Linked DNA regions of Homo sapiens: region 2 is linked to region 1. A link means that fine-mapping ties the variant in region 1 to the expression of a gene that starts in the linked region. Tissue or cell type: whole blood. Region 1 holds a variant in brackets; the other region holds the start of a gene. All regions are shown on one strand. Distances are from middle to middle.

The links. PIP is the estimated chance that this variant, and not a neighbour inherited with it, causes the effect.
Region 2: it holds the start of FXN, and the variant in region 1 is fine-mapped to the expression of FXN in whole blood (TOPMed, PIP 0.92).

The regions. Positions count from the first base shown.
Region 1 is chr9:69,128,862-69,131,547 of GRCh38, forward strand. It overlaps a transcript of TJP2 not described here. Among named protein-coding and RNA genes, the nearest start is that of TJP2, 44 kb to the right of the region's middle. RefSeq lists an enhancer at 1,799-2,328. The variant A/G (reference allele first, on the strand shown) is at 1,296.
Region 2 is chr9:69,034,489-69,037,174 of GRCh38, forward strand. It overlaps FXN (frataxin), which reads left to right and starts at 1,264. Exons shown (of 5, transcript NM_000144.5): 1 at 1,264-1,459. The coding sequence starts at 1,295. RefSeq lists silencers at 1,153-1,622, 2,205-2,499 and an enhancer at 1,783-1,832.

The DNA of each region.
Region 1 (2,686 bases):
TTTCCAAGGGAAAAGGACATAGGGAAAGAGGAAATTCTGTTTTGAATAAATTCTCCAGTTTCAATGGTTTAGATTAGAAGCATACTGAAAATGTAAATTGAGCCATTTGCTCTTTTGGAATTTATTGCGGCTTAGGCCTCTGGGCCTAGTGTAATACCTGATGTTCCTAAAGATTTGAATGAAGAATTAATGAATACGTAGTTTCTTGGGGTTGATGGGGAGTACGTAAGCAGGGACTTACTATTCTACCTGCTGATTTAATGTCCATGAAAATAATCATACACTAAAATGTTAATAATACATACACACAAACGGACTAGTGTACATGGTGGACATTTTAAACTCTTTCACCAAAATATTTATTGATTAACATCTGTCAGGGCCAGATGAGGTGGTTCATGCCTGTAATACCAGCACTTTGGGCAGATCACTTGAATCCAAGAGTTCGAGACCAGCCTGGCCAACATGGTGAAACCCAGTCTCTACTAAAAATATGAAAAATTAGCCAGGCATGGTGGCGTGTGCTGTCCTTCCAGCTACTCAGGAGGCTGAGGTGGGAGAATCCTTTTAGCCTGGGAGGTCCAGGCTGCAGTGAGCTGTGATTGCACCACTGCACTCCACCTGGGCAACAGAACAAGAACCTGTCGCAAAAAACAAAAAAAAACCCCGTCAATTCTACTTACTAAAATATACAATAATATAGTTTAAAAATCATATTAATACATTGTCTATATATTTTATTAGGGTACTCTTTATTTTATTCTCAAGTACTGCCAAAAGAAGAGTAGACTAAGGCTGGGTGCGATGTCTCACGCCTGGAATCCTAGCACTTTGGGAGGCCGAGGCGTGCGGATCACTTGAGGTCAGGAGTTCGAGACCAAAGCCAGGCTCACGCCTGTAATCCCAGCACTTTGGGAAGCTGAGGCAGGAGGATCACCTGAGGTCAGGAGTTCGAGACCAGCCTGGCCAACATGGTGAAACCCTGTCTCTACTAAAAATAAAAAAATTAGCTGGGCGTGGTGGCGTGCCTGTAATCCCAGCTGCTTGGGAGGCTGAGGCAAGAAAATCGCCTGAACCCGGGAGGCGGAGGTTGCAGTGAGCCAAGATCACGCCATTGCACTCCAGCCTGGGGGACAAGAGCGAAACTCTGCCTCAAAAAAAAAAAAAAAAAGAAAAAGAAAAAAAAGAAAAAGAAAGTAAAAAAAGAGTAGATTAATAAGACATTTTTCACGAGTCAGTGCATTTTTGTTCCTTGTTTCCCAAGCTGCACGGCAGTGTTTTTCCTTTGTAGCCAC[A/G]GAGAATTTTCTTCATTCTCTACAGTCACAAGCCAGTATTGAGTTTCTTAAATATCTGTTGTGTTTTGGAGGCTCGCTATAACCTGACCTCAGGTTATACTGTTTGGATCTTGTATTATGGGGAAATGTTGGTAATAGCAGAGAACTAGGGAAGTCAGCTGGATTTAGAAAAAGAAAACTTCCATTTGAGGGTTCTTTGAGACAGTAGTGGGATAGGTGAGTGGAAGTGTGTAGCGCAGTGATTCTCAAACATTAGTTTGCATCTGAACCATCTGGAAGGCTTGTCAAAATACAGATTGCAGGCCCCCCTCCTGGAGTTTCTGATTGCGTAGATCTGGGGCGGGGGCTCAAGAATCTGTGTCTCTAACGAGTGCCCACCCAGGTCATGCTGCTGCTGCTGCTCTGGGAATCCCGCTTTGAGAACCAGTGCTTTGGAGGCCTTTGGAAGTGCAGGTCTGGAACTTGCATGACGGAAGGGGCCGGGCTTGAGGCTGGTCTGGGCATCCTGTGTGTGCAGGGGCTTGGTGGAGCTGTGGAAGTGGGTACCAGCCAAAGCAGGGCGCATAGACAAGTGCTGAGGACGAATTGAGGAATACTGTGGGGAGGGGTGGCTGCGAGGAAGAACAGAGCTGAGAGATAAGGAAGAAATGGACAGAGGGTTATGAGGAGACCTGGGTGAGTGAAGACCCACAAACTCCTATGTAAAGGTTCAGGAGAGTGAGGACATGTATGGGTATTGGTGTCAGGGGAGGGACTGAGTGGTCACCCGGATGGTAGGTGTTGTAGCTGTGCAGGCCTGGCCTTTCCACCATTCTTTCAGGAAGGGCAGCATCCCCGGGCAGTGGGATGTGCTGCTTGTGGCCACAGAGTCACATGTGGACTTTCCTGTAAGAAAGGGAATTCTTTTAGTCTTTCTGGCCGTAGTCCCAGGGATCATGACTAAGTTCTCTCCCTCTTTCTGCCTGTCACTGATAATTAACGTAAAACCAGGATGAGTTTTGCAAACCAGAAGCAAGATTTCTTTGTGCGAGGAGTGACTGTCATCTCTAAAACTGGAGTTTGTGTCCTTGTGTGTATTTGCCTGCTCAGCTTAATAGCTTTAGGCATGCAGTCATCTTAGCATAACTTGATATAAGCCGATTCTGAGAGTGGGTGCTGACATATGGAAGTGTTTTTGACAGTCCACGTTGTGAAGGTCAGGAGGTTTGCTACAGGAAAGAAATCCAAGAAGGGCAGTGGCCCACTGGTGTTGGGTCCTCTGAGAGTGAGCTGTGTTCTACTCTTCCCACTCACGTCACAAAGTCGAGAGAAACATCCCCTAATTTGATTGTATATTTCATTTTAAAGGAATCCTCATTGCGTCTGAGGATGTAAAATATTTCTCTTGGGTT
Region 2 (2,686 bases), 94 kb before region 1:
GTAGCTGAGATCACAGGCATGCACTACCACACTCGGCTCACATTTGACATCCTCTAAAGCATATATAAAATGTGAAGAAAACTTTCACAATTTGCATCCCTTTGTAATATGTAACAGAAATAAAATTCTCTTTTAAAATCTATCAACAATAGGCAAGGCACGGTGGCTCACGCCTGTCGTCTCAGCACTTTGTGAGGCCCAGGCGGGCAGATCGTTTGAGCCTAGAAGTTCAAGACCACCCTGGGCAACATAGCGAAACCCCCTTTCTACAAAAAATACAAAAACTAGCTGGGTGTGGTGGTGCACACCTGTAGTCCCAGCTACTTGGAAGGCTGAAATGGGAAGACTGCTTGAGCCCGGGAGGGAGAAGTTGCAGTAAGCCAGGACCACACCACTGCACTCCAGCCTGGGCAACAGAGTGAGACTCTGTCTCAAACAAACAAATAAATGAGGCGGGTGGATCACGAGGTCAGTAGATCGAGACCATCCTGGCTAACACGGTGAAACCCGTCTCTACTAAAAAAAAAAAAAAATACAAAAAATTAGCCAGGCATGGTGGCGGGCGCCTGTAGTCCCAGTTACTCGGGAGGCTGAGGCAGGAGAATGGCGTGAAACCGGGAGGCAGAGCTTGCAGTGAGCCGAGATCGCACCACTGCCCTCCAGCCTGGGCGACAGAGCGAGACTCCGTCTCAATCAATCAATCAATCAATAAAATCTATTAACAATATTTATTGTGCACTTAACAGGAACATGCCCTGTCCAAAAAAAACTTTACAGGGCTTAACTCATTTTATCCTTACCACAATCCTATGAAGTAGGAACTTTTATAAAACGCATTTTATAAACAAGGCACAGAGAGGTTAATTAACTTGCCCTCTGGTCACACAGCTAGGAAGTGGGCAGAGTACAGATTTACACAAGGCATCCGTCTCCTGGCCCCACATACCCAACTGCTGTAAACCCATACCGGCGGCCAAGCAGCCTCAATTTGTGCATGCACCCACTTCCCAGCAAGACAGCAGCTCCCAAGTTCCTCCTGTTTAGAATTTTAGAAGCGGCGGGCCACCAGGCTGCAGTCTCCCTTGGGTCAGGGGTCCTGGTTGCACTCCGTGCTTTGCACAAAGCAGGCTCTCCATTTTTGTTAAATGCACGAATAGTGCTAAGCTGGGAAGTTCTTCCTGAGGTCTAACCTCTAGCTGCTCCCCCACAGAAGAGTGCCTGCGGCCAGTGGCCACCAGGGGTCGCCGCAGCACCCAGCGCTGGAGGGCGGAGCGGGCGGCAGACCCGGAGCAGCATGTGGACTCTCGGGCGCCGCGCAGTAGCCGGCCTCCTGGCGTCACCCAGCCCAGCCCAGGCCCAGACCCTCACCCGGGTCCCGCGGCCGGCAGAGTTGGCCCCACTCTGCGGCCGCCGTGGCCTGCGCACCGACATCGATGCGACCTGCACGCCCCGCCGCGCAGTAAGTATCCGCGCCGGGAACAGCCGCGGGCCGCACGCCGCGGGCCGCACGCCGCACGCCTGCGCAGGGAGGCGCCGCGCACGCCGGGGTCGCTCCGGGTACGCGCGCTGGACTAGCTCACCCCGCTCCTTCTCAGGGCGGCCCGGCGGAAGCGGCCTTGCAACTCCCTTCTCTGGTTCTCCCGGTTGCATTTACACTGGCTTCTGCTTTCCGAAGGAAAAGGGGACATTTTGTCCTGCGGTGCGACTGCGGGTCAAGGCACGGGCGAAGGCAGGGCAGGCTGGTGGAGGGGACCGGTTCCGAGGGGTGTGCGGCTGTCTCCATGCTTGTCACTTCTCTGCGATAACTTGTTTCAGTAATATTAATAGATGGTATCTGCTAGTATATACATACACATAATGTGTGTGTCTGTGTGTATCTGTATATAGCGTGTGTGTTGTGTGTGTGTGTTTGCGCGCACGGGCGCGCGCACACCTAATATTTTCAAGGCTGGATTTTTTTGAACGAAATGCTTTCCTGGAACGAGGTGAAACTTTCAGAGCTGCAGAATAGCTAGAGCAGCAGGGGCCCTGGCTTTTGGAAACTGACCCGACCTTTATTCCAGATTCTGCCCCACTCCGCAGAGCTGTGTGACCTTGGGGGATTCCCCTAACCTCTCTGAGACGTGGCTTTGTTTTCTGTAGGGAGAAGATAAAGGTGACGCCCATTTTGCGGACCTGGTGTGAGGATTAAATGGGAATAACATAGATAAAGTCTTCAGAACTTCAAATTAGTTCCCCTTTCTTCCTTTGGGGGGTACAAAGAAATATCTGACCCAGTTACGCCACGGCTTGAAAGGAGGAAACCCAAAGAATGGCTGTGGGGATGAGGAAGATTCCTCAAGGGGAGGACATGGTATTTAATGAGGGTCTTGAAGATGCCAAGGAAGTGGTAGAGGGTGTTTCACGAGGAGGGAACCGTCTGGGCAAAGGCCAGGAAGGCGGAAGGGGATCCCTTCAGAGTGGCTGGTACGCCGCATGTATTAGGGGAGATGAAAGAGGCAGGCCACGTCCAAGCCATATTTGTGTTGCTCTCCGGAGTTTGTACTTTAGGCTTGAACTTCCCACACGTGTTATTTGGCCCACATTGTGTTTGAAGAAACTTTGGGATTGGTTGCCAGTGCTTAAAAGTTAGGACTTAGAAAATGGATTTCCTGGCAGGACGCGGTGGCTCATGCCCATAATCTCA